Regions from separate parts of the Homo sapiens genome. Here all the other regions are linked to region 1. Evidence: fine-mapped expression QTL. A gene starts in region 1. Each other region holds a variant in brackets. All regions are shown on one strand. Distances are between the middles of the regions.

What was found.
Region 2: its variant is fine-mapped to the expression of CRIP2 in whole blood (TOPMed, PIP above 0.99).
Region 3: its variant is fine-mapped to the expression of CRIP2 in whole blood (INTERVAL, PIP 0.98).
Region 4: its variant is fine-mapped to the expression of CRIP2 in whole blood (INTERVAL, PIP 0.99).
Region 5: its variant is fine-mapped to the expression of CRIP2 in whole blood (TOPMed, PIP 0.97).
Region 6: its variant is fine-mapped to the expression of CRIP2 in whole blood (TOPMed, PIP above 0.99).
Region 7: its variant is fine-mapped to the expression of CRIP2 in whole blood (TOPMed, PIP above 0.99).

What each region holds. Positions count from the first base shown.
Region 1 is chr14:105,473,244-105,477,305 of GRCh38, reverse strand. CRIP2 (cysteine rich protein 2) reads right to left here and starts at 2,485. Exons shown (of 8, transcript NM_001312.4): 1 at 2,401-2,485. The coding sequence starts at 2,443. RefSeq lists silencers at 2,463-2,572, 2,753-2,822, 3,093-3,242, 3,333-3,422, 3,433-3,482 and an enhancer at 3,511-4,043.
Region 2 is chr14:105,492,771-105,496,832 of GRCh38, reverse strand. It overlaps TEDC1 (tubulin epsilon and delta complex 1), which reads right to left. Exons shown (of 9, transcript NM_001367178.1): 5 at 2,900-2,998; 6 at 747-953. Among named protein-coding and RNA genes, the nearest start is that of TEDC1, 3.6 kb to the right of the region's middle. The variant G/A (reference allele first, on the strand shown) is at 1,802.
Region 3 is chr14:105,374,219-105,378,280 of GRCh38, reverse strand. It overlaps PACS2 (phosphofurin acidic cluster sorting protein 2), which reads right to left. Exons shown (of 25, transcript NM_001100913.3): 9 at 1,356-1,513. It also overlaps the pseudogene RPS20P33. Among named protein-coding and RNA genes, the nearest start is that of TEX22, 22 kb to the left of the region's middle. The variant G/A (reference allele first, on the strand shown) is at 1,646.
Region 4 is chr14:105,408,254-105,412,315 of GRCh38, reverse strand. It overlaps TEX22 (testis expressed 22), which reads right to left. Exons shown (of 4, transcript NM_001195082.2): 3 at 820-948; 4 at 1-656. The coding sequence ends at 483. Among named protein-coding and RNA genes, the nearest start is that of MTA1-DT, 9.5 kb to the left of the region's middle. RefSeq lists enhancers at 1-210, 211-714 and silencers at 786-915, 1,016-1,075. The variant G/A (reference allele first, on the strand shown) is at 1,596.
Region 5 is chr14:105,392,708-105,396,769 of GRCh38, reverse strand. PACS2 (phosphofurin acidic cluster sorting protein 2) reads right to left here. Exons shown (of 25, transcript NM_001100913.3): 23 at 3,925-4,062; 24 at 3,435-3,548; 25 at 1-2,216. The coding sequence ends at 2,098. Among named protein-coding and RNA genes, the nearest start is that of TEX22, 3.8 kb to the left of the region's middle. The variant G/A (reference allele first, on the strand shown) is at 1,682.
Region 6 is chr14:105,401,952-105,406,013 of GRCh38, reverse strand. The region is part of intron 2 of TEX22 (testis expressed 22); the gene reads right to left. Among named protein-coding and RNA genes, the nearest start is that of TEX22, 5.4 kb to the right of the region's middle. The variant A/G (reference allele first, on the strand shown) is at 2,243.
Region 7 is chr14:105,438,601-105,442,662 of GRCh38, reverse strand. MTA1 (metastasis associated 1) reads right to left here. Exons shown (of 21, transcript NM_004689.4): 2 at 3,924-3,991. Among named protein-coding and RNA genes, the nearest start is that of MTA1, 21 kb to the right of the region's middle. The variant G/A (reference allele first, on the strand shown) is at 2,203.

The DNA.
Region 1 (4,062 bases):
TGCTGAGGGTCCGGGACCCTCTGCCACTGCCTCCCACCCCCACACTGGGGCTACTGGACTGCTTCCCAGTGGATGGAAGCAGGGGCCTCCCTAGGGAGCCAGGCAGGAAGAGGTGGGGAGGGGCAGGAAGGGCCCAGCAGAGCCGGAATTCTGAAGGGAAGGGGACAAGCTGCAGGCCCTGGGGGGAGGGAGCATGCAGGCTGGGCCCACCCTGCCCGGCAGAATCTGGCCAAGCCCCTCAGGTGGCCGAGGACCAGTGGCTCTCCCAGCTCCCTTTCTCAGCAAGTGGCCCAGCCCCCTTTGTCTGGCAGATATCGGGGAGGGGCATCTGGCTAGGGCGAAGCCCACTCTGAGAGGCCCAAGGGTGCTGCTCCTGGCAGTGAGATGGGATCCCCCAGGTGGCCTACTAGGTAGAGGGCTGTGAATACTGGCTCTCCGTGGCCCTGGTACAACCCTCTGGGCATGGCCAGGGCCAGCCTCCAGGACACCAGCCCAACCACAAGGCTGCACCAGCTTAGAGCCCTCTGACCAGAACCACTCCACTCAAGGAAGCTGGGACACACCAGGGCAGGCAGGGGCTGGCTGCACGGTGGGCAGGCGTGTCCCAGCAGCAGCAAGGAAGTCTCGGTGGCTATCGGCCGTGGCAGCTGCAGCCCAGGGCTGCCAGCACTGTGCTCTGGCCAGCTCTGGGACGTGGGCCAAGTGGGGGCAGGGAACTGGCCCTCAGACCCACTGGGTGGGTCAATGGCCACACATTACGGGTCCGAGTTGGGAACACAGAATCGATTGGGTCTAATGGCTCAGAAGAAAACCAGCTGCCCACCCTGGCTGCATGGGCTCTGGGGTGGCCTCCTCAATGTGCTCCGACATCCCAGCCTGGGTTCTACTCAGGTATGAGCTGCGGGGGCAGCCTGGTGTGAGGGTGGGCAGGATTCTGGACCCTCGCCCTCACAGTGCCTCCCAGGCAGGACAGAAGCCAGCCGGGTCTGAAGCGCCTTTGTTTTCCGCTGAGAGGCTGGGCGGGCCAGGCAGGCAGGCCTTTCCGGGCTGTCCACAGGACTGTTGGCCGAGACCCTGGAGAGCCCCAGGCTGGCCTGGCCCGGCCTGGGGTAAAGTCATGGGCAGTTGGACTGCAGAAGGGCCCTGGGGACCGTCTCCCACCCTAAGCCTTACAGAGACAGCCCTCGCTGGGACAGAGACTGAGGGCTGAGCGGGCTCCAGGAGAGGCAGCCGGAAGCCCCTCGGCTCCCAGCCACGCCAGAAGCACTCCAGGCCAAATCCGGTCCCTCCCCTCTGGGACGGGCAAAATACAACCTCCCCTCAACCCCCTCCAGCCTGTGAGCCGGGGAAGCCCAGTGGCGGCCTTCCCTGCAGCCTGGCCGCATTCTGGGTATGGGGCGACCAGGGCAGGCGCCCTGTTGGTCCCGGCCCTCCTCTCTGCTTCACTAAGTCTGCCCCCCTTCGTGCAGCAGCTGGTGGGTAGGTGGGCAGGGACCTTACCACCCTGGAGAAAGCTGGGCAGCGAATCAGCCAGGAGGAAGGGGGTAGGAAGGGCGCACCCAGGCCCAGAGAGTGAGTAAGCCCAGACGGGGGGAGCGCGCCTGCCGGAGGGGCTAGACCGAGGGCCGCCTTGCGAGACATCCCTCTTCCCGCCACCACCTGCATCCTGTCCAGGGCTGTTCTGACCTTGAGGAGGCAGGGATCCTGGACACCTGGGCTGCTTGAGCACAAGGTCCCTCTCACGTTCGCGGGAACTCGCGTGTCACACCCGCCCCCACCCTACCCCCGTGTGAAACTCCTGGGGGAACTGGCGCCAAGGGAATGCGTCGGGACAAGCAGGAGGCAGAGGCCAAGGTCGCCCCCGCTTGGACTGAATCCCGACAGAGTCCAAACCTGGCCCAGCCCAGCTCAGCGGAGCCCGGAGTGGGAGCTGGGGGTCACTGTTCCCGGCCACTTGTTCCCGGGGGAAGCGGGTGTAGGGGGTCCAGGAGAAAGGGCCCAGGCCCACGGGAGCGCGCGGGACGCACCCGGGGCGTACAGCCACGCCCTGCCCCGCCCCGCCCGGCGCCGTCCGAGGAACCGGGATGCGTCCGCGGATCCCCGAGCGCTCCCCCAAACACTGGCCTCATCCCGGGGCACCACAAGCCCCGCCCGGGTGGTCCCTGCCCCGCCCCCACAAGCCGCTTCGGGGTTCGGGCGTGACCGCCCCCGCTTTCGCGCAGCCCCACCCTTTGGCTTTAGCCGCTTGGGCAGCGCGGCCAGCCAGCCTCCGGGACGCGCATCCTCGGTCCGGGGCCGGGGCCGGGCGCACCCCGAGTTACGCCGCGGCTCTGCGGCGCGGGACTGGCCGCGAAGGGCGGCGGGATGCACCGAGCGGGCCGGGAGCGGGCACGCACTCACCGAAGTACACGGTCTTGTCGCACTTGGGGCATTTGGAGGCCATGGTCGGTGCGCCCGGTCGGCCCGCGCCCTCCGCCCGTTCTCCTCCGGGCCGCCGCCGCCCGCGCCCAGCCCCGCCTGCCCGGCTGTCCGCGCGCCCATTGGCTCCGCGGCCGGGGCGGGGCCTCGATAACCCGTCCCCCGGGCTGGGGGCCGCCTGGGGGCGCCGCGGGGGCGGGGCGCACCTGCCGGGGGTGGCGGGTGCGGGGCAGCCGGGCCAGGCCTGGCGCCCCCGGGCCCCTCGCGCCGGAGGTGGCGTCTACAGGGGCCCGCCCGGGCGACCGCGGCGCCGCCCGCGCCCCGGCTGTTTCCATGGCGACGTCGGGGCCGCCTGGCCGGGCCGTCCCCGGGGCGGCGGGCAGGGTGCGGGGAGCCTGGCCCTCGGCTCTCGGGGAGCCCTAGTGACTTGGGCCTAGGGGTCCAACACTCCCGGCCCTGGGCGCCCAGGCTGCGCTCCGCCGCGGGAAGGGGTCGCAGGCTCCGGGAGAACCCCACCCCCACCCCGCCGCGCGCGGCGCCTGTCCCGCTTCCCTTTGTTGCTCGGTTTCCATAGCAACAGCCGCGCCGCGGGAGCGGAGTCAGATTCCCGGCGGGCACGGCCCCCAGCCCTGTCCGGGTCTCCATGTCCCGCTCCGCCCCCGCCCGCGCCCCGCCCCAACACTGTCTGTGGTGCTGAAGGCTCCTTGGGTGGAGGGCAGGGCTCAGGAAGGAAGGCGCCGCCACCTCCAGAAACAGCTCGAGAAGCTGCTGGTAGGGGGTGTGGGGAGGTCTGCGTCTGCCTCCCAGGCAGGGAAGGGGCGGCGGGCACCAGCGCCGAGGGATCCGCGCTTAAGGCGTCCACCCCAAGCACTTCCACCCAGGGGGCGGCCGGGGAGGCGGTGAGGAGTTAGGAAGGGAAGGAGGGGAAGGAGTGGGCGTGCCCTCTGTGCCCCGGGCTGGGGCTGACACTCCAGTCCCTTCTCCCGCACCGCCCAGGACCAGCTGCGTGCCTGGGGGCCCAGGGCCTGACCTCGAGGGGTCAGGCGGGAGATTGAGGGGTCATGCCAGTCACCGCACCCCCACACCCCCACTCTGGCCTCCTCCCAACCAGGGCGTGCCTGACCACGCCTCACCACAGTGCCTCCGCCCTAGAGCCCCGTAGAGCCTGGCCCCAGGTGGGGAACCTCCGCACCCACGGGCTTCCTGGTGCTCTGTCCCCATGGGCCCTTCTCTGAGCCTTCTGGCCCCAGCTGAGCGTCGGCCTGGGAGACAGGCAGATCCCAGAAGCCCAGTGATCAGGCCCTATGGGGGCAGCTGACTCTGGACACCCTTCCCCCTGTGTCTTGGAGGCTGTGGGCTGGACACGGAGACCTACCTGTTCCCTCTGCCTGGTGCACCAGGCATGTTTGTGAGCCAACCAGAGGCCCTCGGTGCTCCTGGCTTTCATGGTGGTCCTGGCTGGGCTCTCTGTGGCAGCACCCTCCTCCCTTGCACACACACCCTGCAGCCACTGCCATTTCCATGGTGACAGCAGGCCAGAAACATGCCCCCCGCCCCCCCGCCCGACTGACCAGCCTGACCAGCTCCCCCTCTGCACTTGGGACCTGTGCCAGCCAAGGCAGAAGATGGTGAGGAGGCATCAGT
Region 2 (4,062 bases), 20 kb before region 1:
AGTGACCCAGGTGGCAGAGAAGGCAGAGCTGAGCCACACTTGACATTCCCAAGTGAAGGGTCAGGCAGGGCCAGGAGACCCCGCCCTGCCTGCCCCATGGCCCTGCACAAAGGTACCTGCCCACAGTGCCCACAGACAGGCGGCTGGAGAATGGCCAGGACACAGCAGCTGCTCTGCCCACACACGGAAGGCCTCCCAGGTTCGCTCATGGGCTATCTGTACCAGTGACCCTGGGCCCGGGGCAAGGGGACCCCTGCTGGGGACAGGCCCTCTACACCTGAATCCTGCCCCACTCTACCCCTGCTTCCCCCGGGAACCCAGAGTGTGGAGCAGGCTGCAGGGGCCTGGGGCTCCAGCAGTGGGCTGGGGGGCAGATAGGAATGGCCTTGAACACCAGGTCCAACCCAGCCCCTCTGGGGCGGAGCAGAGCAGAGGCAGGCAGGCCTGCGGTCAGAGAATATGAGGACAGGGAGGTCTGTGGGCGGTGTGGGAGCTGGAGCAGGCTGGTGCCGGGGCTGCAGCCCACCTGCCCACCCCAGCACGCCACAAGAAGAGCAAAGGCCTCCACCATGGGTACGGCCGCTTCAACACACCTGACAGAAGGCAATCACCACAGTTCCCAAGAAGGTAAGGGCCAGGGGTGGGAGCAGGCAGGAGAGGAGGAGCAAACACACCCCCTCGCCACCCCCTCCCACCCACCCCCAAGTCCTGCGGTCTCCACTTCCCTGCCAGCCTCCCCGACTTACCGCCCTAAAAGGGGAGAGCAGGCTGCAGGCTGAGGCCCCACCAGGATCCAAGGGTGCTGCCCAGTCACCCGGCAGCAGACCTGGCTGCTCACATACCAGCCACAGATCATTCCAGAAGGTTCTGGGACCCATCCCAGGAGTGCAGAAGGAGTGCAGGCACTTTGGGTAGGCCAGGTCCAGGTTTTGGGCAGCTCCCGCTCCAGAAACCTTGGAAGGAAGCCAGCCATGGCCCCAGTCCACCTGGCCAGTGCCGCACACAGCTTCGGGGAGAGGGCGGGGCCTCACTTCCAGGCCCCCCCAGCCCACCACAGAGGGTGGTCCCACAGAGGCACTGGGCAGGAGCAGCCTGGGGCCAGGGCAGCCTCTCCTCTGCCCCAACCCAGGGGTCCCAGGGGCCAGAAGCCTGGGCTTCGCTGAGCCGCCTCTACAAGGCAGGTAGGGACAAGGGCAGACCAGGACGCCCGGATGCTGCCTCAGCACTGCCAACGCCAGTGCAGGCTGACTGGGTGGGCGCCAGCCCGGCTTCAGCCAGGGACACAGGTCCAGCTGGCACCAGGGGCCAGGCAGGCGTCAGGGGTTGGGCCCTGTAAGCCCATGAGTGAGGCATGCAATCCCCCAGGCTTGGGCTGCAGAGCTGGAACCCACAGGCCCTTGCTACGAGCAGGAAGCCCCAGCAGACACAAGACTAGGGGCCAGGAGCCAGGCCATCCGCCTCTGACCCCTAGGTCCCCCTGGGCAGGCCTGGGATGAGGTACAGGGGCCAAGTCTCTGGGATTGGAGAGGGAAGAGGCAGAGAAGGGGGACTGGGTCTGGAAGAAGAGGTCACACCAGCCCTGAGCCTCTGCCCTCCTGCCCGGCCATATGCACCTGGAGCAGGACAGTGCCAGCCCGTCACTCAGGACAGTACAGAGCCCAGCCCAAGTGGTTGGCTCACGCCTGTAATCCCAGCACTCTGGGAGGTCGAGGCAGGTGGATCACCAGAGGTCAGGAGTTCGAGACCAGCCTGGCCAACGTGGCAAAACCCCGTCTCTACTAAAAATACAAAAAAATTAGCC[G/A]GACGTGGTGACAGGTGCCTGTAGTCCCAGCTACTCAGGAGGTTGAGATAGGAAAATCGCTTGAACCCAGGAGACGGAGGTTGCAGTGAGCCAAGACTGTGCCACTGCATGCCAGCCTGGGCGACACAGCGAGACTCTGTCTCAAATAAATAAATAAAATAAATTAAAAGAGTGGCAGCCAGCCCTGCCCTATCCCCTGAAACCAAGCCAGCCAAGAGGAAGAAGCCAGTGATGACGGGCGGGCAGACCCCCAGAAAGAAGGATGAGGATGGAAGGCCAGCAGCAGGGTGCGAGGAAGCGGCCATCCCTGGGGAAGATGCCTGGGGCTAGGTCAACCCTAACACTTGGGTCAGTGCTCCAGCAGCCCCAGTCAGAGGAGGATGCTGTCTCCCCAAGGTCACACAGCCACCTGGGGCTCAGAGGCAGGTTTTCCTCCAGGTCTATGCTATCCAGGGCTCAGGATCTGCCTGGGACCACAGAGCCCCGGTCGCCGGGGGCAGGCCTGCCTAGAAAGCGCCGTGCCCCCGGGTGGTCCGGGTGTAGCAAGCAGAACGGGACTGCAAGTCTCCAGGGCCTATGGAGCTGGCTCCAGCTTGGGAGGCTCGGTCCAGCACACCCCATGTGGGCCTGGCCTTGGGTTCTGAAGGGCAGTTGTCCCCTCCCACAGTCAGCCCTGTGCCCAACCCTTCACCCAGTGTGGGCTGGCCCCCCACACCCCTAGGTGCCCCCTGACACACCAAGTGAGACCTGCTTGAGATGCCAACACCACCAGCTCACACCTGAGATCTGTGTTCCTTTATTCCAACAGCCTGCCCTTAGCCAGCTGCCTGCCCAGCCCAGGCTCCTGCGTCCTGGGCCCCCACCCGTGCCACGTCTTGATTTGTGGAAGGGAAGGGTGAGTGGCCCATGAGGCTAGGAGAGGCCCAGAGAAGCTGTCTGTCACCCAGGCTGGCAATGATCAGTGGCAGACATGCAGAGACACCCACCGCTGGAGGCCCAAGAGCTGCCCCGCCCCCAGGCCCCTCCCACCCTGGGCAGTCCCCCTGCTGTGCCCCCCAGCCCACCCCCACCCCCCCGCAGCAGCTTGCCCGCCCTCACCTGCTGGCCTCCCTCTGGGTCCCTGAGCATCTCTGCTTCAGTGACAGACAGATGGCTAAGGCTCTGGTCGCTGTGGCAGCCGCGTGTGTACAGGTGGATCTAAAACAGGTAGTGCAGACCCCAGGCTGAGTGGCAGTCAAGCACCTCCCCCAACGCTGAGTCTCCATGAGTCCAGGGAGGTCGGCCATCAGAGCCCACCTCCCAGATGAGGAAAGAGGGCTCAGAGAAAGCCACTCCTTGCCTGAGGTTGGCGGGGCTGGGCTGGGTGCAGAACAACCATCAGCACCGCTGGGGTCTCCTGCAAGGGGGCGCCAGGCAATTTCACTGATGGCCTCCCCACCCCGCCCAGCTTCCAAGCAGCAGCAAGATTGGAGTGGGGTGCCCTGGCTTCCCCAGCAGCATCGGGGGAGGAACAGCCTCTGGACAGGCACAGCAGTTCAGCCAGGCTCACAGTGGGGACATGAACGACTGCTTGGATCTAGGGAAATGGGGAAGGCTCCCCAAAAAAGGGAGGCTGGAAGGTGGCACAGAGGGTCACAGGTAGGCACATAAGTAAGCGGAGCAGCTGGTGCCAAGGCCAGGCCCGACGGGGTGAGAGGTCCCTGGAAAGGCCAGCTGAGCAACAGACCCTCTGCAAGGGTGGGATGGGGGGGTCTCCAAGGAGTCCCGCGCTGGTGGGAGCCCGCCGCTGCCACAGACCCACCTGTCAGCGCTGGCCTCACAGTGGACACACCACTGGGTACCTGTGCCCCTGAGCCAGCCCCTGCCACCTTCAGGACCCCACAGGAGCTGTCCACCCCGCAAGTCAGCCCCCACCAGGATGTGGTGGCAACAGGAGCTGTCTTCCTCCCCCTCCAGTGCCCAGGAGGGAGTGGCTTTCATGGCACAGACCCCATCCCACTGTTCACAGAGCTGGAAGTCCACTGGTAACTTTTGGGAACAGAAAGGCAAATTCTGTGAGCTCTCTGACACCCGTTTCTGCCCACCATTGCCCACCCCACTGGGCTCCCTGCCCAGCCCTGCCCCCTACAAGGACCACCGGGAACCACGGGCTCAGGCTTTGGGTAAGCCAGGGCAGGAAGGCCCACATCCAGCCAAAAGCCTGTGCCAGGCCTCACGGGACGGGCTGCAGGGACTGGCAGCTGGCGGCCTGCAGCACGGGA
Region 3 (4,062 bases), 99 kb after region 1:
TCAAACTATGAATGCTAGCTGGCCAGGGCTCTGCAGATACAGCCAACACCACGGAGTTTAAGATGGGAGAGGATCTGGGCCACAAAGATGTCTCCTATGGAATCACGTGAGCCGTTAAAGACAGAAAACTTTCTCCGGCTGAAGGCAGAAGAGATGAGGCAGGAAGGCCAGGGAGGCCCAAAGTGTGAGGGGGACTTCACTGGGCCTTGCTGGTTCCGAAGGTGGAGGAGGGACCCTGGGCCAGGGTACGAGGACGGTTGCCAGAAGGCAAGAATGACCAACGGCCACCAGGCGGCAGGGCAGCCAGACCCCCATCCCGCAGCCACACGGAGCTGAACTCCACCAACCACCACGCTGGGCCTGCACTGCATGACCTCGGAGCCCCAGTCAGGGCAGCCACCAATACCTCCACCCGAGCCCAGCGAGACCCTGGCCAAGAATGAGGCCACAGCCTCGGGATGGCAATCTCCAGAACAGGAGGAACAGAGGCTGTTTCTGGTGGCCACATCCGCGGTCACCTGTTATGGTGGCTGCTGGCAACTGAAGGAGCAGCAAGTTGGGCTGGGGCTGCCAGGCCGGGGCAGGTGAGGTGGGAGGCCGCTGCGTGGCTGCAGGGCTAACTGGGGCCGCGCCTCCAACATGCAGCAAGGCCACCTTCTTCGTGTTGTTTAGGTTAAAAAAGTGTGAGAGCAAAAGGTCTACCAAGCTTCCTGACTCTGACTGGGGCCTCTGGCTCCTCAGCAGCTGCCCAGAGGCTGGCACCTGCCTTCTGCCTGGTGTGCTTGCCTTCCTGCCCCCAGCTGACCGAGGCCTCCATACCCAGACCCATGCACAGAGCTGCCTGCCCTGCATCCTCTCCTCCTGCCCAGGCCAGGCCACCCCAGCCAGCCCCTCCTCCCATCCAGCCACAGAGACACCTGCCCTCCCCCTCCCCACCTGCCTCTGCCTCCTCCTCCTCAGGGAGGGGCACCCAGCATGGGAGCTCTACTCCCCACCTGAGTGAACGGAGGTCCCCTGCAGTTCCCAGGGCATCCCCCAGAGACGGATCCCCTACAACGGGGTGCCACACCCAGCCCAGCCAGCACCCTGGGGGACCCCTCTCGGTCCTCCCCAGCCCAGAGCTTGCACCCCCTGGCCTATGAAAGGAAAGCTGCCTGGCTCAGTGCAGCCGTAGCCTGGGCCTGCCAGGCAGCCGCACACCCCTCCTTCCAGCCACCAGAGCCTTCCCAGGCTTCGAGGCAGCTGGCCCTGCCCACCCCGTCTCCAGGGCTGGACATGGGTCTGCCAGAGTGGTCGCAGAGTGGCCGGGGCATCTGAAATGGCTGTTCCTCCCCGCCCCGCCCTGTAGGGCTCACCGCAGCTTCGGCTTGGGGGTGCTGAGGACGCTGTCGTCATCCTCCATGTCGGGGCCGCTGTCGCTGGGGTGCTCCATGTCCAGGGTGTCATACAGGAGGTCCAGGTCCTCCTCTGCCTCGGGGATGTGCTCCGCAGGGTCCTGCTCCGAGTCCAGGACCTGCACGGGTGCCAGGCACGCGTGAGTTCCCTGCAGCAGCCCACATTGCCCCACTGGGGGCGCCCGAGACCCCAGAGTCTGCAGGAGCAATAGGAGGCGGGCACCCAGCCACCAAACCCCTCCACTCAGCAC[G/A]GCTGTAGTCCAGCTTCTGTCTTGGAGCTCGGGATGATCACCGAGGACCCCCGGTCCCCAGGTACCGGTGCGTGTGGCATTCCTCCACCTCCCCTGGGCTGGTGCAGTCATCTGGGCTGCCAGGGTGCACGGAGGGCCTGGGTGCAGGCAGGTGAGCTCTGACGGGTGTGGGCCACTGTGCAGCCACCACCAAAACCAAGACAGAAAGTGCTCCCCACACCCAGGAGGCTCCCCTTTGCCTTCCTCTAGTGCGTCCCCTCCCTCAGCCCCAGGCCCTGCGAATCTCACTCTGTTCCTGTACATTCTGCCCTTTCCCGAGTGCTACCCAAAAGGAATCATGTGGCCTGCAGCTCTCGGTGGCGGGGGGAGGAGGGCGTCATCCACCCAGCGTGGCACACTTCATGTTCCACTGTGTCCCCACCCAAGTCTCACCTTGAATTGTAATCCCCATAAGCCCCACGTGCCAAGGGCAGGACAAGTGGAGGTAACTGGATCCTGGGGGTGGTTTCCTCCACGCTGTTCTCATGATAATGAGCACATCTTAAGAGATCTGATGGTTTTATAAGCATCTTGTATTTCCCCTGCAGGCACCCACTCCGACCTGCTGCCCCATAAAGAAGGTGCCTGCTTCCCCTTCTGCCATGATTGGCAGCTTCCTGAGGCCTCCCCAGCCATGCTGAACTGTGAGTCAACTAAACCTCTTTCCTTTATTCACTTCCTCTGATGGTTCTGCAGTGCGCCACTGAGTGGGTGGACCCCAGTCTAACAGATCACCAGCTGACGGGCATTATGACCATCACAGATGAAGCTGCTGTGAACGTCTGAGTGGGTCCATGCATGTGTGTGTTCACCTCCCTGAAGTCAACACTGAAGAACAGGGGTGCTGGGTGTCTGGCAACTGCTTCCTGTGGCTGCCACACCACCTTACATTCCCCCAGCAGGGTGTGGGTTCCTGCTGTTACACCTCACCCTGTTGCATTTCATTTGTTCCAGCCATCCTAGTGGGGATCAAGTAGTGTCTCATTGTGGTTTGGTTTACATTTCCCTAATGACCAGTGATAATGATCATGATGATCGTGTACTTATTGGCTACTTGTGTGTCTTTGAAGAAATCTATTTAGAAAGATCCCTATTTTTTTTTTTTTTTTTTTTTTGAGATGGAGTCTCGCACTGTCTGTTGCCCAGGCTGGAGTGCAGTGGCACGATCTCGGCTCACTGCAAGCTCCGCCTCCCGGGTTCACGCCATTCTCCGGCCTCAGCCTCCTGAGTAGCTGGGACTACAGGCGCCCATCACCACGCCCGGCTACTTTTTGTATTTTTAGTAGAGATGGGGTTTCACCGTGTTAGCCAGGATGGTCTTGATCTCTTGACCTTGTAATCCACCCGCCTCGGCCTCCCAAAGTTCTGGGATTACAGGTGTGAGCGACCACACCCAGCCCCCTGCCCATTTTTTAATTGGACAATTCACTGTTCTTTGTCTTTGAGAAAGGGTCTTGCTTTGTTGCCCAGGGTAGAGCGCAGTGGCACAATCATAGTTCACTGCAGCCTCGACCTCCTGGGCTCAAGTGATCCTCCCACGTCAGCCCCCAAAGTGCTGGGATTACAGGTGTGAGCCACTGTGCCTGGTTCTGACAAGTGATAATCACTTTATTAAAACACTTGGCTTAAGCATCTGCAATGGTGATGTCAACCGCGGCTCGCAGCTCAATTCCAACAGAGCAATCAGCCTCACAATCCAGGATGGACCAGGCAGGTCCACGAGCTGCTTATGGATTCTCGTCTGGAAGTGATCCTGTGTCTGAGAACCTTCACCACAAGGTGTGTTTCTCTTAGTGATTCTCAAAGACTTGGCAGGCATCAGAACTGGTTCTTTCACTTTGAGATTGTTTTTCTCCGTGCCCCTCATAAGCCAGCACACACCTCCAGGGATTTTACATTGCAGCTGGTCAGGGTAATTCTAATTCAAGGAATCACTCCACGGGCTCCAGAGGTGTCCTCCCGGTGTCTTTAAAAGCCGTGGCCACGAGGCGGCTTCCTGGTCGACTTCTCAGTACAAGTGGACAGCAGCGAGTCAGGGCAGGAGTGGGCGGGCCCCAGCTCCGTGGCACCTGAGGCTGCATCGTTCTCAAAGCAATGGACAGTTCAGCTTTTAACTAGACTGTCTGTGTCTTTATTTTTCAGTTATAAGCATTCTTTATGTGTTCTGGATTCAAGCCCCTTATCACATATATGATTTGCAAAAAACATTCTTCTGTTCTACTGTTCGGTTTTCTTGATGGCACTATTTGGTGCACAAAACTGTAAAATGTTGCTGTGGTCCAGAAAAACTTACCTTTTGTTGCTTATGCTTTTGATGTCACATCTAAGAAACCCCTGCCTAACCCAAGGTCATAAGATTGGCCCATTTTCTTCTAAGA
Region 4 (4,062 bases), 65 kb after region 1:
TCAGAGGCAGGACCCAATGTGAGACCCCGCCCCCTGGAGAACTCTGCCTGGCCCATCTCACAGCCTGGTGCAGGCAGATACCCAGTTCCCCAGACCAGGCCAGCCAAGGAGCTGAGTCTCCAGGCAGCGCCTGCCACTGGGGCTTCCCAGGACACCAGTGCACCTCAGGCAGGCCCAGGTACCCCAGGCCTCCTCCCAGCGGCCCCGAGGGCAAGCTCCTGCTACCCAGGCCTTGCCAGGGCCCTCTCAGACTGACCCGGGGCAGTGTTCCCCTCCCCTAGATGGCCTCCCATAGCCCCTAGCCCGGTCTCCAAGGCCTCAGCAGCTGCAGGCTGTCCGGAGCCAGGTCCTGCCTGGCCTGTTTTCCTAACATGGGTGGGTGGTGACCCCCTGGTGGGGCACAAAGAAGGCGCAGAGGCTGCCCCCACCGTGGGCCCCCAAGGAAAGGCACTGGAAGACAGACAATGGGCTGAATGGGGCTCTTAGGAAGGGGGTGACCTCGAGGCCTCGAAAGTCGCATTATGCCAGAAAGGCGCACTGCGCGCCAGGAAGGCCTGGAAGGCGTTGGTGGACTCGGTGGACCTCAGCGGGTGGGGAAGGAGCACGTCCTTGTCCACGTCCTCCGACACCAGCTGGGCTACCATCTGCACGACGTCCTGCGGGCGAGGGTGGTCAGGGAGCCTCGAGGGGCGGGAAGGGGACAACGGCGGGGCCCGGGAGCGCCGGGGTAAAGGGCCCAGTGGGACTGAGTCGAGGGAGGCGAGGCGGAGGGGCGGGGCGGGGCGGGGACGGGGCGGGGAGGACCCGCCCCCCGCGCACCCTGCAGTGCAGCTGGGTCCCGGCGGCGCCCGGCCTCTCCCGGCCGCCCAGCGTGGCCAGCCGCCGGCGCTCGTCGATGCTGACGCTCCAGCGGCGGCCCGGGCGCCTGCGTTCCGGCGGCTCGCACACCTGGGGGACAGGGCAGCGGGTCGGCGAGGGCCTCGGCGCCAGCTCCCCTTCGCCGCTCCCACCCAGCACCCGCCGACCCTCAGAGCTCGCCCCCGGGCGCTTTCTAAAGCGCCGTCTGCTCAGCCTCCCGCTGCTCCAGCGCCAGCTCCCGGCGCGGGGCCTCAGGCAGTGTGGCCCTCTGTGGCTTTGCACAGTCATCTGTGCCAGGACACCGCCCAACCCAGTACCTGCCCCGCTTCATGTACAGCAGGGCTGCCTGTGGACCGCTTAGTCCTCACGGCCGGCCCCCGGCTTGACCGGCAGGAGAACCCCCGGAGCTCGAGCACTGATGCGTGCCTCAGGAAAGGCAGGACTAAGGCCAGCTCCAGACTGCCCTTCTCCCCAGACCCCTCTGAAATGATCATAAAGAGAGTTCGGGAGAAAATAAAGATCATGAATCCATAGACAAAAGACCAGCGCCAGTGGAGGAGGGCCCCTGGCAGGGTACAGGAGACTGGAGGGCAGGGACCACCAGCTGGAGAAGCTGTGGGAGGGCCACAGGGAAAGGCCAGAAGCAGGTGAGGTCCCCAGCACGACCTCTATCCCCCAAGAAGGAACTTCCCACGTGGGCTGCAGGAGACGGTTCCTCCAGACTCTGCTCAGCCTGA[G/A]GTTCACCATCCTCCACCTCCCTCACCAGGGGGAAGGGGAGAGGGGAGAGAAGGCAGTGCCATGCTAAGAGTGGGATTCATGCAAACCCGAAGTGAATTCTCATTCCTCAAAACATTAAAATCAGAATTGCATGGGATCCAGCAATTCCGCTTTGGGGTATGTACCCAAAAGAGTTGAAGGCAGGAAGGCAAACAGATGTGCGCACTCCAACACAGCAGTGGTCATTATTCACAATAGCGAAAATGTGGAAGGAATCCAGGTTTCCACAATGGATCAATGGATAAAGAAAATGTGGCAGATCCAGAAAATGGAATATTATTAAGCCTTAAAAAGTAAAAAGGCTGGCCGGGTGTGGTGGCTCATGCCTGTAATCCCAGCATTTTGGGAGGCCGAGGCGAGTAGATCACCTGAGGTCAGGAGTTCGAGACTAGCCTGACCAACGTGGAAAAACCCCATCTCTACTAAAAATACAAAATTAGCCAGGCGTGGTGGCACATGCCTGTAATCCCAGCTACTCAAGAGGCTGAGGCAGGAGAATCGCTTGAATCCGGGAGGTGGAGGTTGCACTGAGCCGAGATCACACCATTGTACTTCAGCCTGGGCAACAAGAGCAAAACTCCGTCTCAAACAAACAAACAAAAAAGGTAAGGAGGCTAGGCGCCATGGTTCACATCTGCAATCCCAGCAGTTTGGGAGCCCAAGGCAGGAGGATCGCTTGAGGCCAGGAATTCTAAACCAGCCTGTGAGACCCCATCTCTACAAAAGAAAAATTAAAAAATTAGCCAAGTTCAGTGGCACATGCCTGTAGTCCTTGCTACTGGGGAGGCTGAGGCAGAGATTGCTTGAGCCCAGGAGGCTGAGGCTGCAGTGAACTGTGATTTTGCCACTGCACTCCAGCCTGGGTGACAGAGTAAGACTCTGGAAAAAAAAAAAAGAGAGAGAGAAAGAAAAAGAAGGAAGGAAGGAGAAAGAGAGAAAAAGAACGAAAGAAAGAATGAATGAAAGAAAGAAAGGAAGGGAGAAAGAAACAGAAAATGTAAGAAAATCCTGGCTGGGCACAGTAGCTATAATCCAAGCACTTCAGGAGGCTGAGGAGGGAGGATCGCTCCATCCCCTTGAACTCCCCAGGAGTTCAAGGCCACAGTGAGCTAGGATTGCACCACTGCACTCCAGCCTGGGTGACAGTGCAAGACTCTGTCTCAAAAAAAAAAAAAAAAAGAAGAAGAAGAAGTCTTAATAGTCTAGGGCACCACCACACAGCAGCGCTGCAAGCTAGAAGGTGATGGACAAAGCCTTAAAATCCTGAAAGAAAATTATTTCCCACCTAGTATCTCACCCAACCAAGGTGTCATTCAAGCATACAGGCAGAATAAAGATATTTTCATATCTTTAGAGTCTCAAAAACTTTCACATCCTCTGAACCCTTTTGGAGGAAGCTGCTAGATGTACTCCACCAAAACAAAGGATAAACCAAGGAGAACAAGCTGGGGCCCAGGAAACAAGGGGTCCTGTAGACAGGAGGCAGGCGGATTGTAGGGGGAGGGGAGAGGGAGTGGGGAAGGCTACTCAGTGGCCCTGCCAGCTGGGCTGGTTGCTGGCAGTCCAGGGCTCCAGGAAGGCCACTGCCAAGGAGAAAACACAGCTCCAGACGACCCAATGTACAGGGGTCTGTGAGAGGAGAGTCCTAGATTTGTTGGAAGGTTTAGGAAAGAATAATCAGTTCGTAGAAGAGGGAGGAGGAGGAGGAGGAGCAGGAGGAGGGGGAGGGGGAGGAGGGGGGAACACAATGATTTCCTCCAGGGAAAACAGCACAAAGGCAACACGGCCATCCCACGGTCACGATGCCACATGGTCACTGTAAAGCTAACAGTGGAATTGGGTTTCTGCTGAGTAGACAGAATGCTGGTGGGAGGATGGGGAAGGGGCGCTACACCCTTCGTCTCTGCGGTGGGGCATGGACAGAATGCAAGACAGAGGAATGAAAAGGAGGCAGTGCGGCCGGGCACGGTGGCTCACGCCTGTAATCCCAGCATTTTGGGAGGCCGAGGCGGGCAGATCACCAGAGGTCAGGAGTTTGAGACCAGCCTGGTCAGCATGGCGAAACCCTGTTTCTACTAAAAATACAAAAATTAGCCCAGCATGGTGGCACGCACCTGTAATCCCAACTACTTGGGAAGCTAAGGCAGGAGAATTGCTTGAACCCAGGAGGCAGAGGTTGCAGTGAGCCAAGATCATGCCATTGCACTCCAGTCTGGGTGATGGAGCGAGACTCTGTCTCAAAAACAAAAAACAAACAAACAAAACACAAAAATTAGCTGGGTGTGGTGGTGGGTGCCTGTAGTCCCAGCTACTTGGGAGGCTGAGGCAGGAGAACCACTTGAACCCCGGAGGCGGAGGTTGCAGTGAGCCAAGATCACGCCACTGCACTCCAGCCTGGTGATAGAGTGAGACTCCGTTTCAAAAAAA
Region 5 (4,062 bases), 81 kb after region 1:
GCACTTTGGGAGGCCGAGGCGGGTGGATCACTTGAGGTCAGGAGTTCAAGACCAGCCTGGCCAACATGGCAAAACCCCATCTCTACTAAAAATACAAAAAAAATAGCCAGGTGTGGTGGCACACGCCTGTAATCCCAGCTACTCGGGAGGCTGAGGCAGGAGAACTGCTTGAACCTGGGAGACGGAGGCTGCAGTGAGCTGAGATCATGCCACTGCACTCCAGCCTGGGCAACAGAGCAAGACTCCATCTCAAAAAAAAAAAAAAAAAAAAAGAAAAGAAACTGGAGAGCAGAAAAACAGATGCTCTGCAGCCCAGCTTGGGGGCAGCTGAACGAGTCAGTCAGGGTCCCACCTGTTGCCGGGGTCAGAGGCCATCAGCCCGGGGCTCACACCCTCACCGCAGACACTTCTCGGGGCAGAGCCTGAAGCCAGGATTCAATGGGAGACCTTCCTACCCTCTCCCCCACCCTGGGGTGTGCCCCAGGCTCCTGGTCCCAGGTGAAGGAGGAGTCCCTGGTGTGGAGGGGCTCTGGCTGGGAGGGGCTGGGGCTCTGCCTCCTGCACACAGGCTACCTCTGAGGCCTGAACCCAGGGAGCTGAGGCTGCACACCAGGCCACATCCTGGCCCCTCACCACAACAAAATCACCCTGTTCAGCCACCTGGGGGGGGCGGCCAGGAAGAGCAGGGCGGTCACAAGTAAGAAATGTGGGCCATCTCTCAGGCCAGCAAGGGTGGAGACCCCTCCAGCCCCGGCTCGAGGCCCACCCTGCCCTGCGTTTGCTTTCTGAGCATGGCCTTTTGCAGTGCTCCATCTTACGAAACCAGGCCAAGAGCCCCCAGGGTCGATCAGGACCCCTGGGAGGGCCCCAGCTTCCCCAGCTCCTCCTATGGAGACCCCACAGTGCAGGCTTACTGGGGAGAAGCAGGACTGAGGGGGCAGGTGTGGTCAGGGAAGCCCTCTCCTGCTGTGTGGAGGGCATGGAACCCACACACAACATGGGACCCAACACGCTCTGAGGACTGTGGCCTGGAGAGCCTCCCAGGCCCTGCACGGGGTACCTGGCTGCACCCACGGCTCCAAAGTGCCGGCCCCGCTGGTCAGGCCATCCCGCTGGAATCTTCATTGGCTACAGCGTTGCAGCAGGTGACACAAACACATCTGGACGCCTGCCCCATATTCACCAAAACCTGAATCTCAACCCAGATATCCCCATGGCTGACCTCAGACATACCCACTGGGGTGGAGGAAGTGGCCCCCACCTCAGGCCAACCCCAGCAGCATCTCACTATGTACCAAGCTGGGCTCTGGAACATTTTCTGGGGCCACCTGGGCTGTGGAGGCCCCTGTGCTTGCTAAGTTTGGGGCAGGGACTACACGCAGAAGCCTCATGGTGTTTCAAGAACAGCCTGAGAGTGGGGAAGGTGTGAGGCGGGGTGGGGCAGGGGCTGGGGAAGTGGGGGCAGGCTCTGCTGGCTCTGCCCAGCCCCAGGGGGACTTCAGAAGAGCAACATGTTTGGCAGCTACATTAGAACATGTATTGAAAAGCATTAAAAATATCTGCTGCTATAAAACCTCCGCCGCAGGCAGGAGTTTATTGGGAACCACGAGTGTGCGGTGCTGGGGGCATCTCTTAGGCGGGCAGGACGGCCCCCCCAGGCTCAACTCAGGACAACCCCAAC[G/A]GGACTGAGCGGCCCCATGGCCCTCGGCCTGTGGCCACTGAGCTCCGCCTTCCCCGGGCTCCCTGAGGAAGCAGAGTCCTGACTTCCAGGAAGGACAGGACACAGAGGCAAGAACTCAGCCTGTGAGGCTCTGGGTGGCTCCTGAGGCCAGAGGACGCCTTCCGCGATCCATGGCTCAGCATCGTCCTTCTGGCTTCCCAGCCCCGGGCCGAACGTTCGGGTTAATAAGCAGAGCAGTTATTCGGCTCCTGGCAGGAGCTCCCCCGTTAGTTTCCACGTTGTGAGCACATTCATACTTAAGACTGTTTCTCTTTGTGTTTTAAGCGTCTGTCTCTGTAGTAAACTGAAATGTTAACAGAAATGCAGCTGGGCCCCTCACAGCATGGGGCAGGAGGTGGGCCCCCTGGTGGGTGGGGCTAGAAGGTGGCCTTGGAGTGTCCGAAGATGCAGATGGGGAAGTGCTTCACGTGCGAGGACCACTGCGCGGCCAGCTGGAAGAACTTGACGTCGCTGCACTCCACGCCGTCGATGAGGACTGTGGGAGAGGGCTGCCTGACCGCCTGCCCCCCTGCCCGGCCTGCCCACCCTATCCACCTGCCTGCCTGGCCCACCAGGCTGGGTGGCAGCCGGGCGTACAGGATGAGAAGGAGCCCCATGCTGGAGGGCATCAACACTTTCCTCAGGGACTCGGGGGCTCCAGGGCCATGCTGGCTCCTGAGGGACGCCATTCCTGCCCCTGCCCTCCACACTCAGAGCCCTGGGGGGTGGGGAGGGCAGCATTTCCCCCAGGGCTGCCTGCAGGTGGAAGGAGCAGACCCCACCACCTTCCGCCAGGCGCTGCTCGTCCACATCCACTTCCACCTGCACAGGTGTGGGAAGAAGACAGTGGGAGCCCCCTTAAAACAGAGACCCCTGTGGGGAGACAGGGCCACGTCGACCTGGAGGTCATCTGACCCGTGCTCAAAAAGAGGAAAGCCTCCCAGAGCTCCGTTTCTGAAACAGTTACTTGCAGAGTATCTTCTCCAAAACCCCTTTTTTTTTTTTTTTTTTTGAGGCGGAGTCTTGCTCTGTCACCCAGGCTGGAGTGCAGTGGCGCAATCTCGGCTCACTGCAAGCTCCGCCACCCGGGTTCACGCCATTCTCCTGCCTCAGCCTCTGCGCTCAGCCAACACTTTTAAACTACAAGCCATTATTTTTAGGCCAGGTGCGGTGGCTCGCGCCCATAATCCCAGCACTTTGGGAGGCCGAGGCAGGCAGATCACCTGAGGTCAGGAGTTTGAGACCAGCCTGGCCAACACGGTAAAACCCCATCTCTACTAAAAATACAAAAAATTAGCCGGGCGTGGTGGCACGCGCCTGTAATCCCAGCTACTTGGGAGGCTCAGGCAGGAGAATCGCTTGAACCTGAGAGATGGAAGTTGCAGTGAGCTGAGATCACACCATTGCACTCCAGCCTGGGTAACAAGAGCAAAACTCTGTCTCAAAAAAAAAAAAACCAAAACAAAAAACAAACAAGAAAAACGAAACAAGTCATTATTTTTAAAAAGCAAAAAGGGTTGAAAAAAAATTCTTTCTCAGCATTTGGAAGGTTGTCAGCCTCACTGAGGGCTTCATCGAATGTGCTTGCACCTTGAATCGTGGAATGTGCGTGTCACAGCGAGACACCCGCAGCTCCTAGGCTGGGCTCCAAAGCAGCCTTGCTGTGCTCTCACCTACGTCCCACTCTACAGACCCCGGGGCCGGTGGTGCTCACCCCGCAGCATGTTCTGCTGCTGCCTGGCAGTGCAGATGAGCCGGCTGATGCCCTCAATGCACTGGCTCTTAGACTCCACGTCCTTGTCCTTCGCTTTCTTGGGCAGAAACATCACTGGGAGGAGAAAAGAGGCCCTGCTGTCATCTTGCTGCTCCTTCGGGGCTGGGGCCAGGGCCAGGGGTACGTGTGGGGGAGGCACTGGGGGCTCAGCTGGTCATGGCACTGCTCACCTAGGAAACCTGCCTTCCACGGTGACTGAGGACAGCTGCTCTCCTGCCCACCCAGCTGGCCTCCGCCTGAGGCTCTGGTCAGAAGCACCTGACCCTCACTGCCCTCAGGATTCAGGCTCCCTCACCCCACCCGCCCCTGCCTGCGCATGTGGGCTGCCCGAGGCCAGCCCGGGGGCTGTCATCCCTGTTGACTGCGAGCCGCCCTCTCCCACAGAGCCGCCCTTCTGCGCCGTGTGGCCTTATAGCCTGCCCCACCTCACCCTTCTTGTTCTTCTCCTTGGTGACCACGGTCATGGACATGGTGGGCGTGGCTGCAGCCTCGCCGCTGCTGGGCAGCCTGCTGACCTGGAGGGACCGGAAAGTGCACTTGAGCGTGTTTTTGGTGACAGGCAGGTCCT
Region 6 (4,062 bases), 71 kb after region 1:
CTCAACATAAATTAAATCCCCACATTTATGCACAGGTTGGTTTCCGGGTTACTTGTCCAGGCAGTGGTGTCTTTGCCACCTTCTGCCACAGGGCCACACAGTTTTAGTTGTTGGAGCTGGTGCGGACAAGCCAGGCCTTGCTCTTATTTTCCAAAATTGTTGTATGGTTCCTTTTCCAAGTAAACATTTTAAAACATCTTTATTTTTTCAAATTATACTTTAATGAATATTGGCAATATCTTGTTTACTTCTGCATGCTTTTGAACTCTGAACAAAGCCACATGGCATGAATAATTTTGTCACCTTTTTGCCTCTTTCACTCAGGAACAGGTCTATGAGACTCACGCTCACGGCTGCACGCAACAGGCGTCCACACAACCACATTCCCAAATCCGAGGTAAGTTTGCTGTTTGACAGAAAAATGCAATGTGAACTGATGCACGGCCGTTTGGTGTCCATCTTCACCCTGCGGTTGGAATATTCCTGTGCTTACCGCTGCACACGTTCACAACCCTACCGCTGAATTTGGTTGTTTTCAACCCACTCTGACAATGTCTGTCTTTTAACTGGAACACTTAGTCCGTTTTCATTGACTGAATTAAATGACGTACCGGCGATTCTATCTGCCATCGTATCTCCTTCTGTTCTTCTGCTGTAATATGTGAGGGCAGGCAAACTCATCTAACTCCAAAGATGACAAGCAACTCGATCTTTTTTTTTTTTTGAGTCAAGGTCTGGCTCTGTTGCCCAGGCTGGAGTGTGGTGGTGCAATCTCAGCTCACTGCAGTTTCCGCCTCACAGACACAAGTGATCCTCCTGCCTCAGCCTCCACGTAGCTGGCACTACAGGTACATGCCACCATGCCTGGCTAACTTTTTGTGATTTTTTTATAGAGATGGGGTTTTGCCATGTTGCCAGGCTGAGCTCAAGCAATCCTCCCACCTAGGCCTCCCAAAGTGCTGGGATTACAGGTGTGAGCCACCATGGCCCACCCCCCTCCTCTTCTCAGAGGAACTGAGAACACTTTAGTTCCACTCACAGGCACCATCTTGACATTTATGCCATTGCAGGTACATATATTGATTGTATCCTTGCTTTTCTGTGCATGAGTGACATCCAGTGACTGTCAGTTTCAGTTTACTCAGACACTTCCTACTTCCTCTCATGCTTTATCCATTTCAGACCTTTCATCACTTTCATGATGCTTTGAGATCATTTCTTCAGAACTGAGGTGAGAGTGTGCTGGGGGCAAATTCTCTTTTTTATCATTTAAAAACTTTACTTAGCCCTTTGTATAATCCATTTTTGCTGGGCCTGCTATTCCAGGCTGAGCATGGCTTCCCCTGAGCACAGGCATGCTACTGCTCTACTGTGACGAGCTCCCGTGGCTGCTTTGAAGGTTCTGTCTTCCCACTCAAATTGCTTCTGAGGTTTTTGTCGCTGGCATTCTACAATTTCACTATTATGCTTCTCAGTACATAATTTCTTAAAGCGTATAGACTAAATGACTGCCTGTGAGAGCTGTCCTCCAAGATGGCATCCAATGATCCTCACCTCCTGGTATCCATGCCCCTGTGTCGTCCCCTCTCACACTAAATAGGATGACCAGTGTATCCAAAACGGATACTGTAGAAAGAGAGGAGTGTGACTTCCAAGGTTAAGTCATGGAAGTCATTGCAGCTTTCAGCTCACTCTCTCCACTCACTCACTCTGGGGGAAGCCAGCCCCCATACTGAGGATACTGAAGCTGTCCTATGGGGAGATCCACGTGGTAAGGAGCTGAGCCTCCTGCCAGCCCCTATCATGGACTCGCCAGTCATGTGAGTGAGCTGCCGTGGAAGCAGTCTCCAGCCTTCCTCAAGCTTTGAGATGACTGAAGTGTTGACTGCTATCTCAACTATAAGCTCCTGAGAGATCTCAAACCAAAGCCACCAGCTAAGCAGCTCCCAAATTTCTGACCTACGGAAACTAAGATAAAAATACTTACTGTTTTAAGTTGCTAAGCTCTGGGGAAATTTGTCATGCAGCAATGGATAACCAATACATTGCCAAAGGCTGGGTATGGTGGCTCATGCCTGTGATCCCAGCTCTTAGGAAGGCCAGGAGTTAGAGACCAGCCTAGGTAACATAGTGAGACCCTGTCTGTAATTTTTTTTAAAAAGTAAACTAGTAATACATTTCCAGAATCACTATGTACATTTAAAATGAAATTTTCAAGATTCATGAAGTCTGTTTTTTTAAA[A/G]AACACTGAATTGTTTTTGGGAAGCTTGGCATGTTTAAAACGTTAAATCTGGCTGGGCGCAATGGCTCATGCCTATAATCCTAACACTTTGGGACCCCAAAGCTGGAGGATCACATGAGCCCAGTTCAAGACCACACCAGGCAACACAGTAAGACCCCATCTCTGCAAAAATTTTTTTAAAATTAGCTAGGCATGGTGGCATGCCACTGTGGTCCCAGCTACTTGGGAGGCTGAGGTGGGAGGATAGCTGGAGTCCAGGAGGTCCAGGCTGTAGTGAGCTGTGATTAGAGAAGCAGGAGTCTAGGAGAGCCAGGATAACATCATTTTATGTTCAACTCCACCTTGAGACTAATAGAGCACATTCCTTACAGGTCACAACCACGGACCTAAGATGTTTACAGCTAAGGAAGCAGCTTGGTAATGCCTACAAGGACAAACTCATAGAAAAGGAAGTTCAGATGTCCCAACACCCACAATAATATATGCTTTCAAGATAATTATAGTGATGCTTTAATGTACTTGCACACTAAAATGTAAAATAGTTTCCTTTTAATCAATAGAATAATAAATTGTTATGCTGTCAGCCCACCCACACGTAGGCACAGCTTGGTCTTTACATAGATAAGACCTCGATATAAGAAAAACTAAAAACAAAGTAGGTCTGTTCCTCTGCTTGCTTGTTGAGGATGCCCTGCTCTGCAGTGGAGCGGCTTTCAATAAATGATCTCTTCTCACTGCACTCTGCAGCTCGCCTCAAACTCCTTCCTGCATGAGATCCAAAAACCCTCTCTTGGGGTCCAGATGGAGATCCCTTTTCCAGTAACACTGTGATCATACCACTGTACTCCAGCCTGGTGACAGAGCAAGACCCTGTCTCAAAAACACACATATGAAATCTGCCCATCCAATATGATAACCATCTCCATCAGGAGCTCTACATGCTATTCAGTAACATTGTAAAGTGTTCTTCATGAAGGAATTGAACAACAGGTTTCTCTTTTTTTTTTTTTTTTTTTGAGACGGAGTCTCGCTCTGTCGCCCAGGCTGGAGTGCAGTAGCGCAATCTCGTCTCACTGCAAGCTCCGCCTCCCGGGTTCACGCCATTCTCCTGCCTCAGCCTCCCGAGTAGCTGGGACTACAGGCGCCCGCCACCACGCCCGGCTAATTTTTTTGTATTTTTTAGTAGAGACGGGGTTTCACCGTGTTAGCCAGGATGGTCTTGATCTCCAGACCTTGTGATCTGCCCGCCCCAGCCTCCCAAAGTGCTGGGATTACAGGCGTGAGCCACCACACCCGGCCAATAACAGGTTTATTTCTAAGAACTTCATAGTTCCTGTTGCTAAGTTGAATAGTATCCTTTGCTTCCATTCCATTTTCTGCTTTTTACTGTGTTGAAAAGTTGTGAATGGTGATCACATATCCAAACTCCCTCTTTTATCTGTACTCATGTTTCTTAAATTGGATTTTCCAAGTAGGTAACATATTAGATGCAAATAGTGATTGTCATCTTTTCAGATATTTACACATCTCATTTTCTTGATTTACTATAAGGGCTTCGGTTTCCAGAATACTGTTTATTTACTTTTTTGAGACAGTCTCCCTCTGTCGCCCAGGCTGGAGTGTGGTGGCGGAATCTCGGCTCACTGCATCCTCCAACTCCCAGGTTCAAGCAATTCTCCTGCCTCAGCCTCCCAAGTAGCTGGGATTATAGGCACCCACCACCATGCCCAGCTAGTTTTTGTATTTTTAATAGAGACGGGGTTTCATCCCATTTGCCAGGATGGTCTCCAACTCTCGACCTCAGGTGATCCGCCTGCCTC
Region 7 (4,062 bases), 35 kb after region 1:
CACACTCGGGGTCTGTTCTGAGACGCTCCTGCACACACAGGTAAAGGCGGTGAGGCCACACTAGGCCATTCTTTCTTCTCTTCCTTCGAACACCTTTGCTTCCTGAGATTAACAATCGTCTTTTTTCTCCACTTGCCTAGTTTTTCATGGAATCATCACAGATTCTTCCCTAAAGTGCTCGGCAGCAGAGCTCCCAAAGAGAAAGGGCTCATATCAGGGCGCCTGCGAGGCCCCTCCCAGAGCTGGGGTCCACCCTGCTTGCTGCCTGCACCAGGGGCCGCATCTTCCTGGGCGGGAGGAACCTGCGCCTCCCTCGTGTTGGAAAGGCGCGGAGGAGTGCACTCCAAGGCCTCAGTCAGGAAACCTCACTCATCTGCCTTCCGGGAGATGGAGCTTGGCTGGGCGTGGAGCCTCCACACCTGAACGCGGCTGCCGAAAGGCAAAGTGGGTTTTGACTCCGGTGCTTCGTGTGTGACCCACTTTTTCTCTAAACACATTTCTTCTCCCGTGTTCTAAAATTTTAAATACACCTTGAAGGGGCCCCTCTTTATTGCTTTGCTCGCTCCTTCTCTGCTATTAACTGGACGTTGGACCAATGGACTGATGTCTGATTTTTTTCTCTCCTAGTTTCTTTGTGTTTTTGCCCCATCTTCTGTGCGGTATCCTCAACTTTATCACCTGATCCTTTCATTTCATTTGCTACTTCTCCTAACCCAAGTGTCAAGAGCTTTCCTCTCATCTGACCACATCCCAGGATGGATCCCATCCATTTCTCAGAGAACATTCACGGGCTTTGTTTTGCTTTAGTTTCCTTCTGTTCCCTGCACTGGCCCTTCCTCTGAGTTCCTTTTTTACTTTTTTATTTTTTTGAGACAGAGTCTCGCTCTGTCGCCCAGGCTGGAGTGTAGTGGCGGGATCTCGGCTCACTGCAAGCTCCACCTCCCGGGTTCACGCCATTCTCCTGCCTCAGCCTCCCGAGTAGCTGGGATCACAGGCGCCCGCCACCACGCCCGGCTAATTTTTTGTATTTTTAGTAGAGACGGAGTTTCACCGTATTAGCCAGGATGGTCTCGATCTCCTGATCTTGTGATCCGCCCGCCTCGGCCTCTCAAAGTGCTGGGATTCCAGGCGTGAGCCCCTGCGTCCAGCCTCTGAGTTCAATTTTTACATGTGCTGGCTGACCTTCCTGTTAAAAGCCCCCCCGCCCCGCCCCATACGCCTTGCGGCTTTTCATCCCTGGGAGCCTCCCCGGTGCTGGGCAGCTCGCTGCATGGGCTGCACCCATGGGTGCTGGGGTAGCGGGCATTCTGCTGGGTCCCCGATGCCAGCAGCTGGGTCTGTGGGCTTTAGAAGTCTGGCCGCTAGGGTCCTGGGAGCCAAGGAGGCAAGAGGGGCGGGGGGGCCCACCAGGGGACAGGCCATGAGCCAGGCGATCCCCACTTCCAGCCCCCGCACGAACTGTGCTGGCCTGGGTCTGGTGCCCCAAATCTGGGTCCTCTGAGTCCACTGCTCCAGCCCAGGGAAGGGCTCTGTGGGACCACCTGACCCCCCAGACAGGCCTTCCGCGCTGCCAGCCACATGTCACCATGGTTCCTGTTCTCCCCATCCTGACCCAGGCCAGGGCCAGGGCCTCTCAGGTTGCCCAGTCTGCCTGGCTGCCTTCCAAGCTGTGCCCATACCTCCCAGTGGCACCGCCTCTCCCACCTTCCTTGCCCTGTGGGTGCAGAGCCCCAGCACCACTTTCTTGTTATTTGAGGGGGCGTTCAGTCCAGGGAACAGAGGGGAGGTCTGTACTCAACCAGCTGCGCCCACCTGGAAGCCCCGCCTGGAGCTCCTTGGCGTGGAGGGCACTGGCCGCACTCTGTCGCAGGCCTGCGGGTTCTTTTCCACATGGTGAGCGTCTGGCTCGGCTGCCCTGCCTGAACAGTCCAAGAGAGTAGTCGTGCCCCTCACAGGCTGGTGTCCCGCCCAGAGACAGGCAAGTGCCCACGCCATGTGGCCCTGGCCCTGAGGAGGAGGGAGTCCTAGGACGAAGGGGACGCCTCTGAGCGTGTGCAATGCTACATGTGTAACTGAACATCGCCCAAGGGCTGGAAGCCAGCCCCCTGCCTGCACACGCCTGCAATCTACTGTCTGCACATGGAAGCCGGAAGCAGCACGAGGGAACCTTCCTGACAGTGGCACCTCCCAGCAGTGGCACTC[G/A]GCCAGGCGCCCACGGAGGCACTGCAGCCTCCCGCCCCGGGTTGCCTGCCAGCTGGCTGTGTGGGGCCAGCAGTGCCATCTGCCGGCCGCCCCTCCACTACACAGACCAGGAGGGACACAGGACCTCCCCCAGCCATGGTTCAGCGTCAGCTGAGGAACCTCCCTCTGCACCTGTTTCCCTACAGTCCACATGCTGGGATGCGTAAAGTGCTGCCCCGCACTCAGGAGGCTCAGCCACAGGAGTGGCGCCCCATTCCGGCAGTACCCAAGTGGCCTTGCTCTGCAGGCGGGCAGGCCCTGCCCAGCAGGGGCAGTGAGGCAGACTCAGAAGACACCCAGGTCATTGCCTGTGCCTCCAACAAACAGGCCTGGCCCTCAGACCTCCCAGGAAGCTGCGGGGGAGCAGATGTCGCACCCCATGCTCCTCGGCCCCAGGTGGTGGCAGATACCGCAGGGAATGGCCCTCGACAAGCGCAGCCAGGGAAGCCCGGAGCCCAGCATGGCTACGTCAGAGGTGGCGCGCTAACCTTCCCCCCGCTGCCCCCTCTGATCCCAAGAACCCCACGTCACCGCTGCCACCAAGCCTGAGGTCCAGGAAGGCAGCTTCTCCCAGGTGAGCCTGCAGCATCCAGATGGAACACCAAGGGCCCGAGTGCCCCAGGCCTGCCGAGTGGGCAGGGCTCCTAGGAGAAGGCAGCCATCGGGCCACTGGCTCCAGGGGATCGGGGGCTCAGGAGCCCTGCAGGCAGGCACAGAGAGGTCTGTGAAGCACCCAGCACCCCACCCCACTCTCTGCTGGAACCATGTGTCCACTGGTGGGGACAACCTGCCCTCCCTCAACACCCTTAGAAAGTCTCCAACCAGGAGGAGGAGAAGGGACGCTGGGGGACCCACCCACCACCCCTGAGGACAGCGAGAAGGCTCCCAGGGTGTGCGGGCGCCCTACACCTCCATGGCCATCTACGGCTCTGTCTCCCGAGCTGATGGGACGGAGGCTGTGCCGAGGCAGTGGAGGCCAGGAGTGGCTGGGGCTGAGGGGCCCATGTGTCACCACCCCCCAGGAAGGATCTGGTGCTGCCAGGCTCAATGCATGGGCACAACCACGTCCCCCGACCAAACAGCAAGCAACTGCCAAGGACTCATGGCAGACACAAACCAGGTGGGAGCAAGGGCTGCCTGAGTGACCAGGGAGGGCGCTTCCAGCCACGCAGACACCTCAGGGTTGGGGGCAGAGCTCACAGCCCTGCAGGGCTGCCTGAGTGACCAGGGAGGGTGCTTCCAGCCATGCAGACACCTCAGGGGTGGGGGCAGAGCTCACAGCCCTGCAGGGCTGGCTGCCAGGGTTCGGGCAGGGCAGGGGCACCGAGTATGGCTTTCTGCAGCCTTTGGTTGGTTTCAGAATCACACCATTCCGCTCGGGCTCCCCAGGGGACACTGGCATCTTCAGGGGACCCAGCACCCACAGACCAAGTGTAGAGTGGGCAGGCAGCTCAGGGCAGCTGCGCTGGGTCCTGCATGAGGCCACCAGGCCCCTCACTCAGTATCTCCAAGGAGGAGCCACGGTGCAGGTGACAGTGGACGGAGTCACTGAAGGGCCTGTGCAGTGGCCAGTCCAAGATCAGCCCCGAAAGGGGGCCACCCACACTGGCCACCCACAGGGCAGGAGCTGGCGTAGCCCCCACCCACTACCCCCCTGCAGCAACACCAGGGCCCCCCAGTACCTTGTTGAGCTCCTCGATTCTCCGGATCAGGTATGGGTTGCTGGAGGAGTTCTCAAAGTAGACGTAGTCTGCAAACAGCAACAGAGAGAGTGCCACCTGTGGCACCAAAGGCCAGACCCAGTCCCACCTCCCGTGGCCC